2 separate regions of the Homo sapiens genome follow, and region 2 is linked to region 1. Evidence: fine-mapped expression QTL. Tissue or cell type: whole blood. Region 1 holds a variant in brackets; the other region holds the start of a gene. All regions are shown on one strand. Distances are between the middles of the regions.

Evidence for each region. PIP is the estimated chance that this variant, and not a neighbour inherited with it, causes the effect.
Region 2: RSPH3 starts here. The variant in region 1 is fine-mapped to the expression of RSPH3 in whole blood (INTERVAL, PIP 0.97).

The regions. Positions count from the first base shown.
Region 1 is chr6:158,945,928-158,954,128 of GRCh38, reverse strand. No RefSeq gene overlaps it. Among named protein-coding and RNA genes, the nearest start is that of TAGAP-AS1, 50 kb to the left of the region's middle. The variant T/C (reference allele first, on the strand shown) is at 3,837.
Region 2 is chr6:158,995,868-159,004,017 of GRCh38, reverse strand. It overlaps RSPH3 (radial spoke head 3), which reads left to right and starts at 3,816. Exons shown (of 8, transcript NM_031924.8): 1 at 3,816-4,583. The coding sequence starts at 4,468. TAGAP-AS1 (TAGAP antisense RNA 1) reads right to left here and starts at 4,145. Exons shown (of 5, transcript NR_183546.1): 1 at 3,626-4,145. RefSeq lists enhancers at 3,508-3,557, 3,130-4,101, 3,968-4,127, 4,298-4,367, 4,398-4,447 and 2 more.

The DNA.
Region 1 (8,201 bases):
TAGGACTTGTTTAACTTCAGACGATGAAGTAATAAAACATTAAGAGTTTTATTTCCACGACATCTAGGAATTGAGGCAGCATTATCTGTAGACTGGCTCCGCCTGATGGTTTAACCAAGGCCATTCTAGTGCATTGTGTGTTTTTCACAAAATGTTAATTTTTAATATGAGAGCAATAGTAATAAGCAGTATTGCCTTTAGCTAGCTAGACACATCAGCCCTAAGTACATCTTATGCATAGCTGTATTAACTATTACTATAATACCTCTACACACATAAAATGAATGCCATTTGAAGCTTGTGTCTTTCAAATTGTTATATGGAAAAATGCATGTCACTTTCTTTTTTTTTTTTTTTTTTTTTTTTTGAGATGGAGTTTTGTTCTTGTTGCCCAGGCTGGAGTGCAATGACACAATCTCGGCTCACTGCAACCTCCACCTCCCGGGTTCAAGCGATTCTCCTGCCTCAGCCTCCCAAGTAGCTGGGATTACAGGCATGTGCCACCACGGCCGGCTAATTTTGTATTTTTAGTAGAGACAGGGTTTCACCATGTTGGTCAGGCTGGTCTTGAACTCCCAACCTCAGGTGATCCACCCGCCTTGGCCTCCCAAAGTGCTGGGATTATAGGAATGAGACACTGCGCCCGGCCAATACATGTTACTTTCAAAAGATACTGAAACCATACTCCCTGCACTGTGAAGGCTAATTGAAAATTTCTTGTACCAAATTATTTTTTCATTACTCTTCAATCTGGATTATAGAAATTGTTTTATTCTAGTTTCTGTATTACCATGTCTGGGAAAAGATGAAATCTTCTGGGAGGTCAGGGAAACTATTGTAGTTTTTAAGAAGAATGACATCAAATTTGTATTTTTTGAAGGTAATTCTGGTAGAAGTATAAAATAGAATTTTGTTAAGAATGGAAATAGGGCCAGGCATGGTAGCTCATGCTTGTAATCCCAACATGGGTGGATTGCTTGAGCCCAGGAGTTCGAGACCAGCCTGGGCAACATAGTGAGACCCCTGTCTCTGCAAAAAAATACAAGAATCAGGGCATGGTGGCACTAGCCTGTGGTCCCAGCTACTCGGGAGGCTGAGACAGGAGGATCACTTAAGCCTGGGAGGCAGAGGTTGCAGTGCACCGAGATCAAGCCACTGTACTCCAACCTGGGTGACAAAGCAAGACCCTGTCTCAAAAAAAAAAAAAAAAAAAAAAAAGAGAAAAAAAGAAAAAAGAAATAGGAGGTTAATTAGTACAATATTCCAATTGTTAGGCAAGAGAGAGTAAGCCATTGAGAGAGTGGGAGTTGAAAGCAGGGGACAGTCACATGAGACAAAGCCAATAGGAGATTCTAGATGAAGCAAAGTCTGTAAGAAGTTAAGAGAAGATGAAACCAAATTCAGGTGAAGAAATTAGACTCATTACTTGCCCATCGAGTCTCAGTTTAACATTTCTAAAGTGGAAATTTAACAATATGTTCCCTCTGCCTCATCATAAGGTTTTTGTAAGAAATAAAGCAGATAAGTATCAAATGCAGAAAACAGTGATCCACAAATATTGGTTATTATTTTCTTTTTTCTTTTTTTTAATTATACTTAAGTTCTGGGATACATATGCAGAACGTACAGGTTTGTCACATAGGTATACATGTGCCATTGTGGTTTGCTGCACCCATCAACCCGTCATCTACATTGCTTATTTCTCCTAACGCTACCCCTCTCCTTGCCTCCACTCGCTGACAGGCCCCAGTGTGTGATGTTCACCACCCCATGCCCTCATTGTTCTCATTGTTCAACTCCCACTTATGAGTGAGAACATGTGGTGTTTGGTTTTCTGTTCCTGTGTTAGTTTGCTGAGAATGATGGTTTCCACCTTCATCCATATCCCTGCAAAGGACATGAACTCATTCTTTTTTATGGCTGCATAGTATTCCATGGTGTATATGTGGCATATTTTCTTTATCCAGTCTATCATTGATAGGCATTTGGGTTGTTTCCAAGTCTTTGCTGTTGTGAATAGCGCTGCAATAAACATACGTGTGCATGTATCTTTATATTAGAATAATTTATAATCCTTTGGGTGTATAACCAGTAATGGGATTGCTGAGTCAAATGGTATTTCTAGTTCTAGATCCTTGAAGAATTGCCACACTGTCTTCCACAATGTTTGAACTAATTTACACTCCCACCAACAGTGTAAAAGTGTTCCTATTTCTCCACATCCTCTCCAGCATCTGTTGTTTCCAGACATTTTAATGATCGCCATTCTAACTGGCATGAGATGGTATCTCATTGTGGTTTTGATTTGCATTTCTCTAATGACCAGTGATGATGAGCTTTTTTTTTAATGTTTGTTGGCTGCATAAATGTCTTCTTTTGAAAAGTGTCTGTTCATATCCTTCGCCCACTTTTTGATGGGGTTGTTTTTTTCTTGTAAATTTGTTTAAGTTCCCTGTAGATTCTGGATATTAGCCCTTTGTCAAATGGATAGATTACAAAAATGTTCTCCCATTCTGTAGGTTGCCTGTTCACTCTGATGATAGTTTCTTTTACTGTGCAGAAGCTCTTTAGTTTAATTATATTCCATTTGTCTATTTTGGCTTTTGTTGCCAATGCTTTTGGTGTTTTAGTCATGAAGTCTTTGCCCATGCCTATGTCCTGAATGGTATTGCCTAGGTTTTCTTCTAGGGTTTTTATGGTTTTAGGCCTTACATTTAAATCTTTAGTCCATCTTGAGTTAATTTTTGTATAAGGTGTAAGGAAGAGGTCCAGTTTCAGTTTTCTGCATATGGCTAGCCAGTTTTCCCAACACCATTTATTAAATAGGGAATCCTTTACCCATTGCTTGTTTTTGTCAGGTTTGTCAAAGATCAGATGGTTGTAGATGTGTGGTGTTATTTCTGAGGCCTCTGTTCTGTTCCATTGGTCTATATATCTGTTTTGGTACCAGTACCAAGCTGTTTTTTTACTGTAGCCTTGTAGTATAGTTTGAAGTCAGGTGGCATGATGCCGCCAGCTTTGTTCTTTTTGCTTGGCTATATGGGCTCTTTTTTGGTTCCATATGAAATTTAACGTAGTTTTTTCTAATTCTGTGAAGAAAGTCAATTGTAGCTTGATGGAAATAGCGTTGAATCTATAAATTACTTTGGGCAGTATAGTCATTTTTACGATATTGATTCTTCCTATCCATGAGCATGGAATTTTTTTCCATTTGTTTGTGTCCTCTCTTATTTCCTTGAACAATGGTTTGTAGTTTTCCTTGAAGAGGTCCTTCACATCACTTTAAGTTTTATTCCTAAGTATTTTATTCTCTTTGTAGCAATCGTAAATGGGAGTTCACTCATGATTTGACTCTCTATTATTGGTGTATAGGAATGCTTATGATTTTTGCACATTTATTTTGTATCCTGAGACTTTGCTGAAATTGCTTATCAGCTTAAGGAGTTTTTGGGCTGAGACAATGGGGTTTTCTAAATATACAATTGTGTCATCTGCAAACAGAGATAATTTGACTTCCTCTCTTCCTATTTGAATACCCTTTATTTATTTATCTTGCCTGATTGCCCTGGCCAGAACTTCCAACACTATGTTGAATAGGAGTGGTGAGAGAGGGCATCCTTGTCTTGTGCTGGTTTTCAAAGGGACTGCTTCCAGGTTTTGCCCATTCAGTATGATATTGGCTGCGTGTTTGTCATAAATAGCTCTTATTATTTTGAGATACGTTCCATCAGTACCTGGTTTATTGAGCGTTTTTAGCATGAAAGGGTGTTGAATTTTATCGAAGGCTTTTTCTGCATCTATTGAGATAATTTTCTACTTTAATATATTTTTAAAAT[T/C]CATGTGGCAAAGCAAAGGTATGTGGTATGTCATGAATAGATGGAGCTGTTCATGTCATTTGTACAAAAATTCACGCTGCATGTTTGTTCCATCCTGGGCACTACTGCTCTAGACCCTGGGCTGACAGCATTGATCACAACAGACCTGAGCCTTGCCCACATGAAGCTCACACTCTAGTACAGAACAATGCAGGAATAGCCCTTGAGGGCCTCCCTGCTTAGGAGTAGAGCCCGTGGGAGACTGAAGAATATCGATGCTTGTCATAGGAACAGGGAAGAGAGAGGAGCAGCCAGTTAGCAGGTTGGGAGTGTGGCGACTGTGATCTGGAATCTGGTCAGCTCCAGCCGTGGAGAATCAGCTTCTGGGGTGTAGATATAAGCTGTCGGGGTGGCAAAGAAGAGTCAGGGCCTGAGAAACTGGATGGGTTTTGGGACATCATCTGAGAACTGAACACTGAAAAATGAATGAGACCTCAGAAATTGAAAGAGTAGAGAAATTCTCAGGTCAATGAGAATGCAGTTGAAGGAGAAGGAAGGAAGAGGAGACATTGGAGGAAACAGATGACATGGTCAAAAAAATTGTAGGAAAACTGAAGAAATAGATGGTAGAATAGAAGGGAGGATTTACTTTTTTAAAAAATCACTGTAGGGGCAGGCACAGTGGCTCACGCCTGTAATCCCAGCACTTTGGGAGGCCAAGGCAGGAAGGAGGATCACTTGAGCCCAGGAGTTCAAGGCCAGCCTAGGCAAGATGGTAAGACCCTGGCTTTGAAAAAAATACAAATAAAAAATGTTTTTCTTTTATTAGCCAGGCATGGTGGCACACCCCTGTAGTCTCAGTTACTTGGGAGGCTGAGGCAGGTGGTTCTCTTGAGCCCAGGAGCTTGAGGCTGTAGTGAGCTATGATACCACCACTGCACTCCAGCCTGAGTGACAGAGCAAGACCTTGTCTCAAAAAAAAAAGTAAAATGAGAAGTGACTGGCCAGGCACAGTGGCTTACGCCTGTAATCCCAGCACTTTGGGAGGCCAAGGCGGGCAGATCACGAGGTCAGGAGTTCAAGACTAGCCTGGCTAACATGGTGAAACCCCATCTCTACTAAAAATACAAAAAAATTAGCCGAGCATGGTGGCGGGTGCCTGTAGTCCCAGTTACTCAGGAGGCTGAGGCAGGAGAATGGTGTGAAGCTGGGAGCTGGAGCTTGCAGTGAGCCAAGATCGTGCCACTGCACTCCAGCCTGGGCGACAGAGCAAGACTCCATCTCAAAAAAAAGAAAGAAGTGACTGCATTCACACGTTTCACACAAGATTTAATTAGTTATAGAGCTACTTCCACATAAGTAAAGAAAATGGAGTAACAGTTTACATGATACGAGAATGTCATAGTCTTCCCAGAATGTTGCAAGAGAACACTGTCTATGTATGTGATTCTTTTGTTTTTTCAGCAGTAGTAGTAGCCAAAAAGTTGTATGCTTGGATTTTTCCTAATCCAAGTCCCTAATACTAAAGAAAATTTATCATTCCAAACTTAAAATTTCAGGTCCCATTTTTCAATTAGTATAGGCAATAAAATATCCCTGAAATGGCTCATCTACTTCTGATTTTATATACACACACACATCTGTACCAGACACTTAAGTGTGCCAAGTGCTAAGTGCTAAGGAAATTTTGCGTGTGTGTGTGTATAATTTCCTCTATTTGGGAAAAAAAATTTAATAGTCAGTGAAAGCTATCTATATAGTACCTTAAAGGAAAACTACACAAAGCACTCATGAATATACAAATTTTTTATTTCTAATACTTTTCATTTCTTGTGAAGTAACTGCTAAAATTATTTCTAACAAAATTACAGATGAGTAAAATATGTATATATGATGTAACATTATAAATTATAATGTAATTTTAGCAAATCCTTATATTACAGCATGGAATCACTTCAGTATCATTCATGGATAAAGTATTAGCCATTACGTTAATAATGTTCATGTAAGTTGTTAAAGCATCATACGTTTCTTTCTATTGGAATATGTCAGTTAACACAGTCCCATTGAACTCCCTCAGCCGGGTCATTCTTCCTTTTCTGAAAGTTGGGACCATGGAAGATCACACTTGTGGTCAGTGTCATAGATGTCTTCAGTGCCCTATGAGATTTTTATATTTTGTGTATCTGTATCCCAGGACATTGATTTTATCCAAGAACAGTCTTCATCCTTTGCATCAGGAACATTTTGACCACAACATTTTGATTTCTGGATGGGAAGAAAGGGTAAATGAAAATGGTTTTATTTTGCGGTTAATTTATCTACTCAAAACATAGATTATTCAGTAAAATCTCTTAACGTTATTTTAACATAACATAAAATCTAATTTTCATTTATTAATCAGAAAATAATACATGAAACATCATCTACTCTTTCCATAATAAACATCAAGAAATAAAATAGCGTTCAATAAGAAAAGACTTAAGACATCGCCTGTCAGACAGATGCCAGTTTGCGAGTGGAATGGCTAAAGAGAAATCTGCTGCACATTTGAAGAGAGAACCTAGAGTGCATATCCCTACCATGAGGAGAAAACACAGCTTAGTCTTTATACTTTGTCATTTATTTATTCAACAGATATTTATTTAGACTTATTATGCACCAGGACCTGTTTTGTGACTAAAAACACAACAATGAACTAACAGGGAAGGTTGCTGCCCGACTTCCGCGTCTCTTGAAAATGAAGCAAGTCCTGCCTCCCTGCATGGGCAAACTTCCTCAGCCCTATAAGATCACTGCAAGATACTCCTAAAAGCACCTTCTAAACAATACTTTGTGCAATGAATGCAAACTGTGATTCAGCTGCACTGGGGCGGAGTCCAGGCATCACGGTTTTAAAGCTGCCCAAGTTAGCGGAAAGTGCAGCCAGAGTTGAAAACTTGAAAACCACCGAGCACTGTTTCTTCTCTGGGTTCTTTCATACACATTCGTTTCTTCTTCTCATTTGACCCACAATATAGTCCCTCATACTAAAGAAAAATGGAAATTGGACCCAGTGAATTAGGTGATGCTACCAGACCCTAGCAATCCCTGCCAATCTCTAAACCCCCAAAGAAGACAGACTAGGGACTAGCTCGTGTGATTCTCAGGGGAACATAGGTGTAGCTAACCCCATCCATGTTCTCTAGCCATCTGCTGCACTAAGTGCTCAGTTAGAAGAATGGATGAGAGTCCATGTAGATTGGAAGGAAAATGCCCAAAAAGTGTCTTCTTATAATTAAAATAAATATAGTCAAATTGTATCTTATTTACTTTGGTGAATGTTTTTACAAAAAGTATAAAATTCTATAAAAAGCACTAGTCTATCCCTTTTTATTCAGAAATTTAGGACATATCTAGGTTTTAAGAATATAGCCATGAGTTTACTTTCAGGCAGTATTGGCCAAAGCAAATATTACAATGTTATTACAATGTTAAAATAGTATTATATGATAAAATTACTGAAGTAGTAAAGCTTCAAGTTTAAATAGGAGTTTTCTGTTTTAATTGATCAGTTTTCTAGTGTGATAAAAAATCAAAATATATAAATATATATAAAATGTATATAAATATGTTTGTATATAATATATAAATGTATAAGTATACATTTATATATATTTAAATATATACATATAAATATATTTATATGTAAATATATATGTTTATATGTATATATGTATTTATATATAAATGTATATTTATATAAATATATACAAACATAAATACATATTTATATATAAATATATACATATATAACATACAAATATATGTATATATGCACATATATAATTTTATATTAATATACTATATTATATTAATATATTAATATTAATTATATTACTATACAATTAATATATTAATATAATTAATATAATATATAATTAAATATGTGCATATAAACATATATTTGTATATTTTGTGTATATATGCACATATATAATATACATATATAATTATATATTTACATATATTATATGTACATATATAACATATATGTACATATATACAATTATATGTATGTATATATGTACATATATATATAATTCCTACAGTGCTTTTTATTTCCAATAACTTGCTTTGGTTGAAAATGTAATTTTAACGAAAGGTAGTTTATGAGTTTCTAAATCAATAATGTACAATAAATGTAATAAACCTGATAGGATGAAAAAGTCTCACAGCATGTATAGTATGGTCTGACCAACCCTGACATTAAACTTATTGACTGGAAACTTCCTGTCATGCTTTTAAAACATTATTTCTGGCCAGGTGTGGTGGCTTATACCTGTAATCCTAGCACTTTGGGAGGCCGAGGTGAGCAAATCACTTGAGCCCAAGAGTTCAATACCA
Region 2 (8,150 bases), 50 kb before region 1:
CTTTCAGATACGGGGAGATAAAAAATTGGAGTTGAAAACTGCGGATAGGACTTGAAGGGACAGATCCCAAAGAAAGGAGGATCATAGAGAAGCCAGTCTGACATTTAGTTTGGCTTTTATCCTTGAGGCATTTGCTGAATTCTAAGCTGTAAGGGCACTGGAAATCAAGAAACCAAACAGTTGCTAAATAGCTAAAATGCTAAGTGTACATTTCAACAGTCTCACAGAGCTGGGAGTACAAAAATTGGAGTTCAAGGTCACCCAAAGATGGGGACCTGTTAAATACCACAGATGTTCATGTTGAGAAAGAATAGAAAGGCCTAGCTCTGGGATAAGGCCAAACTAGAAAATGATCAGCCCTCACAAAGTCTGAATCCCTAATTAAAGGTCATCTGAGGCCAGGCGCAGGGGCTCACACCTGTAATCCCAGTACTTTAGGAGGCCAATGCAGGTGGATCACTTGAGGTCAGGAGTTCGAGACCAGCCTGATCAACATGGTGAAACCCAGTCTCTACTAAAAAAATACAAAATTGGCCGGGCATGGTGGTGCACACCTGTAATCCCAGCTACCTGGGAGGTGAGACAGGAGAATTGCTTGAACCCGGGAGGTGGAGGCCACAGTGAGCCAAGACAGTGCCATTGTACTCCAGCCTGGGCAACAAGAGCAAAACTCCGCCTCAAAAAAAAAAAAAAAAAAAGTCATCCGTTCCTACTCTAATTGCTTGCCAGAATAAAATTAAATCCTTTCTGGAGAAACACAACATCAGCCACAGTCTCTATGCAATTTATTTATTTATTTTTTATTTATTTATTTAGTTTTTTTTTTTTTGCCAGAGCCTCTATGTGATTTTTTTCCTACACAATGTCTAACATTTAATCAGAAACCTTAGGTTCATCTCTTTTGCCTTTCTTTCTCTCGTGCACCACGTCACGTCCAATCTGTTCTACCTTCAAAATTGAGCTGGGATCTTCCCACCACTTTTGTCCCAGATCCAGAACCAAGCTCCACTGAAAGCAAGGCAGTCTGTCCCCCGACATGGCCTCGGCACTGACTCACTGCATCTCTCGGGCCCGAGCACCACACCTACACCAGATCCAAGCCACCCTCTCACCAGCCTTATTGGGAGCAGCTTCCTATCTGGTCTCTCTGCTTCTGCCTTTGCCCCACTTCAGTCTATTCTCAACCAAACAACTAGAAAAAACAAATTTTTTTAATCAAACTATGTCAAGCTTCTACTCAAAACCCTTTAGGGACTTTTAACCCTAGAGTAAAACCTAAAGTCCTTTCACTGACCTACAACAGGGCGCACGGCCCAGCCTCTGACTTCATCTCCGAATGCTCCTCCTTGTGCTCACTCTGCTCCACTCACTCTTACTGCCATCCCCAACACGACTTCCTGCCTTAGAACGAGGAATTGGCTGCTTCCTTGACCTGGAATGCTGTGACAATTAGTCACAAGTCTCAAGTTTCATTTCTTCACCTCCTTCAAGTCTTTACTCAAATGTCACCTTCTCAATGAAGCCTTCTCTGACCACTATAAAATTGATAGGTCTCCCATGCCCCTAGCACCTAGCCTTATTTCCTGCTTTATTTCGAATTAGCTATTATAATTATGTAACACCCATAATGTACTCACTTTTCTTGTTTGTATGACTCCTCCACTAGAATATAAATTCTGTCAAGGCAGGACTTTTAATCTGTTGTTTGTTTTTGTTTTTCACTGCTATATCCCCACTAACACCAGGGGAGTGGGGACGAGGGACAAGAAAACAACAATGCTTGGCACATACTAGATACACATAACTATTTGTGGAATGAATCTTTCAGTTTCAGATCATCCAAGAGTTGTCCACAAAATAGTCAGATATCCAGGACTGTCACCTGAGGGAGAAGTCTAGGTTAGAGATACATCCTTTGCTACCCTGAGTATATAGGTGGTACTAGAAATTACAGACGTGAAATGGGACTGCCCTGGGAGAAAGTACAAGAAGAGAAACAGGCTGTGGATAAAAACTTGTACAGGCCAGGCACAGTGGCTCACGCCTGTAATCCCAACACTTTGGGAGGCTGAGGAGGGCGGATCACCAGGTCAAGAGAACAAGACCATCCTGGCCAACATGGTGAAACCCCGCCTCTACTAAAAATACAGAAATTAGCTGGACGGGGTGGCACACGCCTGTAGTCCCAGCTACTCAGGAGGCTGAGGCAGGAGAACCACTTGAACCGGGGAGGCGGAGGTTGCAGTGAGCCAAGATCGCGCCACTGCACTCCAGCCTGGCCACAGAGCGAGACTCCATCTAAAAAAAAAAAAAAAGAAAGAAACTTGTACAAGAACCTATAGTGGCTATCAATTTCTTTATAAAGCCCACTGTGGCTGGTATAGCACTATTGTTTACCCACTTAATACCCACTCAATTCTGCCCCAACATCCTCCTAACAGAATTTGTTCTCCTCCTCCCTGGCCAAGTGTTTCTTGGAGGCCTAGAAAGACCGGTTACCTGGTCTAATCCAAATATGGTGGTCTTATATAGATCCTAAGCTTAAATCAATATGATGTAATTCTGGTCAGTTGGGAGTTTACGAGGGGGTTTTGCTCTTCCAATAAAGACAAAAGAGCAGATACTTCTATTACTACTTTGTTGAAGCCAACAACCCAGGTGACAGAGTGGAAAGGTAGGGGAAAAAACGTGTTGTTGATAATGTGCTGAGCCCCCAAGTTACCCTCCAGGTTAACCAACCTGGGGAGTGTAAAATAATGAATTCCTTATTATTTCAGCCACTTGGAATTGGTTTTTTGTTACTTGAGGGAAAAAATATTCTAATTAATATGCTAGTGTTTACTGTTTCCACGATGTGGTGTCAGCCTGTCTATATATATTTCTACAACTCATCTACACAAACCTTGCTTACAGTTTTCCAAATGCACCTTGGGCTTCTTGAGCCTTTGATCAAGCCATTCCGAATGCACTTCCCCCAAGAGGCTGGCCAGTTAAAATACTATCATTTATCAAACACAACTTAAATGTCACTTTCTCCTCTAGCCCTTTCAGAAATTACCTCAAAATTAAATGATCAGACCTAAAATATGTTGGGAGTGTTTTCACCTCTAGAATTTACCATACACCTTTATGCTAGTGTTACTTATAGAATGCCTACATCTGCTTTAGGTCATACACTTCAAAGCACAGAACGGTCCAGATCTTAATATAAAGGCTTGCCATTTACCAGGCACAGCTCTAAGTATTAACGGTTTTAATCCTCAAGACAAAACCTAAAGAGATAAATTCTTCTATTGCCACTTTGTGGATTAGGAAAATGAAGCACAAAAACATTTAACTTGCCTGAGGTTTCGGAGCTAGTACATTCTAGAACCTGGATTCAAATCAAGACAGCAATTAGCTGAATGAAGGTGTAACTGCAAATGCAAATAACTGATCACAAGGGATACACATTCACTCATACAAGATAGAAGATTTTTAACGTTGCTGGTACTAAAACCAAAGCGTCTGCGTTTTTAAGCGCAGCCCCACCCCGCAATACTAGAGACATTCTTTAGAGCTGGAAGCCTGATAGATTAAGGGGAACTATGCCTTTGTATTTTTTAAGACTCAATAAATTGCTCACTTCTTTCCCAAAATGAGGTGTCTGTGGGGGAGGCCCCTGTCGCTCCGTGTGCCAAGGGTCCTCCGATTGCTAGCACACAGCGGTGAGCAGAGAAGGTAGGTGAGGAACTGCACTGACTCAGCTGCAGAGGGCGGCGGCAGCCCGCCCCTGGGGCGGGAGAAGGGCAGGAGCCGGGAGACACCAGGAAGCTCTTCCCCGCCCGGGCACGTAACAGAGCTGGGAGCCTGGCTGCCAGGGGCGTGTTATCGCGGGGGCAGCCTGGGAGCGCTGCTGCGCCGCGGCAGGAGAAACAGCCGAGGACACCCTGGAAGAGCAGGAGCACGTGGGCCTGCGAGAATGGCGCCAACACCAGCCCTGCAAAGCCACATTCCAAAGCCGGGCCAAGGACAGCCACCGTTGCCCCGCAGGCCTCAAGGATGACGGTCAAGCCAGCCAAGGCCGCCTCCCTAGCCAGGAACCTCGCAAAGCGCAGGCGCACCTACCTGGGTGGCGCGGCTGGGCGGAGTCAAGAGCCGGAAGTCCCTTGTGCCGCAGTCCTTCCCGGGAAACCTGGGGACCGGAACTGCCCGGAGTTCCCGCCCCCAGACAGAACCCTGGGTTGCTGGGCAACCGATGCGGCCCCCGCAGCTGGTCTCTGTGGTGCTGGGAGCGAGCCCAGTATAGCTCCCACCTCCTGCGCTGGTAACCTCCCGTCCCGCCCGCCTCCCTTGTTGTCGCCTCTCCTCGCGTCGCGGAATCCTTGCCCTTGGCACTACTTACATCTCTCCGGGTCCCACAACACCTTAGCGCCCACCTGCTTCAAAGCCAAGCTCCACCGAAAGCGAGGCAGTCAGCCCCCGGACATGGCCTCAGCGCTGACTGATCGCACCTCTCGGGCCCCGAGCACCTACACCTACACCAGCCGGCCCCGAGCACTGCCCTGCCAGCGCAGCCGTTACCGGGACAGCCTGACGCAGCCGTGAGTGACCAAGCCAGCCCCTGTGTGGTCCATACTTGCACCCCATCCCCAGGCCGGGGTCTGGCCCCTTCGCCCTGGCAAAAAAGCTGCTTATGCTGTCTTCCCTTGGCTGCACTCTGCCGAAATAAAAGTTCTGCCCTAAGGAATCTCCCGTGGTGTGGAGGAGTGAAGCAGGAAGGGGCATGGGTTGGGCATCAGTTAACTTTTAGTGATATGAGTTGCTGCCGTGGTCCTTAACATGTACACGAATTGGCTCATTTCACAAAGTTTGAATTGTACCAGTGTGTATTGAGGGCCAACTACGTGCTGAGCACCTTACGGGGGGCATTCAAATACGTTTTCTTAGTTAATCCACAGTGCTGTGAAGTTGATTTTATAACTCCATTATGCAGATGAGGAGACCGCGGTGCAAAGATATCCAACAGTAGCATATCCAAAATGGGAGCCGAGTAAATCTCTTCGGCAGGCTTTGAGCAGGAGTAAGATTATTCTTCCATGCAGGACCACAGATTGGTTTTTTGTGGTGGTGGTGGTGGTGGTGGTGGTGGTTGCTGTTGTTGTTTTGAGACGGAGTTTCGCTCTTGTCGCCCAGGCTGGACTGCAATGACGCGATCTCCGCTCACTGCAACCTCCGCCCCCCTCCCCCACTCCTCCCCGATCAAACGATTCTCCTGCCTCAGCCTCCCAAGTAGCTGGGACTAGAGGCGCCCTCCACCACCCCCGGCTAATCTTTGTATTTTTAGTAGAGACAGGGTTTTGCCACGTTGGCCAGGCTGGTCTCAAACTCTTGGCCTCAAGTGATCCGCCCGCCTCGGCCTCCCAAAGTGCTGGGATTACAAGCGTGAGCCACCGCGCCCGGACGGCAGTTTGTGTTTTTACATCCATGAACAGTTGCAAATATTCAAACATACATAGGAAAGAAAAAAAACAAAACATAAGCCTTTTTTTTTTTCTTTTTTTTTTTTTGAGACGGAGTCTCGCTCTGTCGCCCAGGCTGGAGTGCAGTGGCACAATCTCGGCTCACTGCAACCTCCACCTCCCGGGTTCACGCCATTCTCCTGCCTCAGCCTCCCAAGTAGCTGGGACTACAGGCGCCCGCCACCACGCCCGGCTCTTTTTTTTTTTTTTTTTTTTTTTGTATTTTTTTAGTAGAGACGGGGTTTCACCATGTTAGCCAGGATACTCTCGATCTCCTGACCTCATGATCCGCCCGCCTCGGCCTCCCAAAATGCTGGGATTACAGGCCTGAGCCACCACACCCAGCAAAAAAAACATAAACTCTTAAAGTTCTCTTAAAGTTAAACGGTTCTCTAAAGTTCTTTCCATAAGCCTCAAATGTTGAATTCAGCAGAACTTTATAGGAATGCAAGCTCCATGGATGCAGGAACTTTTGCATCTTTTGTTCACCTAGTACAATGCCTGGTACATAGTAAGCACTTAATACGAATTGTCAAACTGATGATTGAACATCAACAATGTAATTATTGATGCTTATTTCAAACGCTCTTTCTAAATTCATAATTATCTTGTTCTAACAAATTCTTTTTCTATAAGAGATGTCTATCACTGTAAGAAAACTAAAATAGAAAATTTAAATTTGAAGAGTGATCATTTATATTAGAAAAGGATTCAATTTTAAAATTTTCTAATCCTTCCAAAAACACTTTCTGGTGCCTTTAAGTGGTTGCTTACAAATCATTACTATCCAATCAGACCAACAGATTAGAAACAAGAATCAATGGTGGTTCATTAGGAACAACTTTTTTGATAGTTGATTAGTATATTGAAGTAATCTATTGATTAGTTTATTAGTATATCTGAGTAATGCACAAGACAGAAAAATCTCAATTTTGAGGAAGTATTATCTTACAAATCATAATCATTGATATCCTAATGGATAAAATACTGATATTTTATCCATAATTTGCTTATGGATAAGGATAATATTCTCCTCTGATATCCTTATGAATAAAATATTTTTTAAGTGTTCAGGAGAGTAGCCGGGCATGGTGGCATGTACCTGTAATCCCAGGTACTTGGGAGGCTGACGCAGGAGGATCACTTAAACCCAGAAGGCGGAGGTTGCAGTGAGCCAAGATCACGCCACTGCACTCCAGCCTGGGCGACAAAGCGAAACTCTGTCTCAAAAAAAAAAAAAAAAAAGTGTTCAGGAGAGTACTTGTCTTAATCCATCTTATGTTGCTCTAACAGAGTATCTGAAACTGGATAGTCTATAAAGAGATCTATTTAGCTCACAGCTCTGCAGACTGAGAAGTACAAGAGCATGGTGCTGGCATCTGCTTGCCTTCTAGTGAGGGCTTTTCTTGTTGTTTCATAACATGATGGAGAAGGTCAAAGGGGAAGCAGATCCGTGGGAAGTGGCCAAACAGGAGGAAGTACCTCATTTTGTAGCAACTTGCTGTCTCTGGAACTAGTCCTGTGAGAACTTAATCCAGTCTCTTGAGAGTAAGAGTTCCCTCACTACTGCGAGAACTGGTGCCAAGCCATTCATGAGGGATCCACCCATGTTCCAAACACCTCCCACTAGGCCCCACTTCCCAACACTGCCATATTGGAAATTAAATTTCCATGTGAGTTTTAGTGGAGACGACAAACCATATCCAGACCACAGCAGTACTTTTAGTACTTGCTGGTGAGTAACTAAATGACCATATCCAAAAAGAGTATGCTTTTGTGTCAATCTGTCTCTATCCTAGAATGTCGTTTAGTTCTTTCATGTTCAAAATTTTATGTTGAACTGGATAAATCTTCAGTTTTTCAGATGACACATGGCTGGAATGGATAACTAACTTATGACTGAAGGGAGTCAAGGTTCTAAATTATCTTGATTGGGTATATATAACTGGGCTGAAACCAAAAAATGAAACTTAATTGGAAAGCTGTGAAGTTTTACTTAGGTATGAGAAGTCAGTTACACAAATACAGAAATGGGAGTATCTGATTTTTCCTTTGAAAGGGTCTAGAAATTTAACACAAGTCTAATGTGAATCAAGAACTTCCACCTTTTCATAGGATTATAAAGCTGAAAGAGAACATTTGAATACTAGTCTTCTCATTTACAAACAAGAGAATGTAATACATCTTTTATGTATTTCTTGGTAGTTGGGTGATCATAAATGCCATTAAATTCACCTTTAGGCATGTGTGAAAAGACAATTGTGATAATGACATTCCCTCATTTTACAAATCCTTTGGTAAAGGATATATAACCCTTCCAATAAAATAACATTTTTAATGCAAATGAATTAAAACCTTAGAACATACCTTTTTTTTATTTTTATTTTTACTCAGGTCAAATAAGGTTTAAAATCACCGTAGAGGGCAGAATAATGATTCCCCAAAGATGTCCTCTTCCTAGTCCCCAGAACCTGTGAACATGTTATGTGGTAAAAGGGACTTTGAGATGTGATTACATTAAGGATCTTGAGATGGGAGATCTTGAGATGGGAAATTAGCCTGGCTTATCCAGGTGGGCCCAGTAGAATCACAGTGGGGCCTTAAAAGTAAAAGAAGAAGGATGGGCACGGTGGCTCACGCCTGTAATCC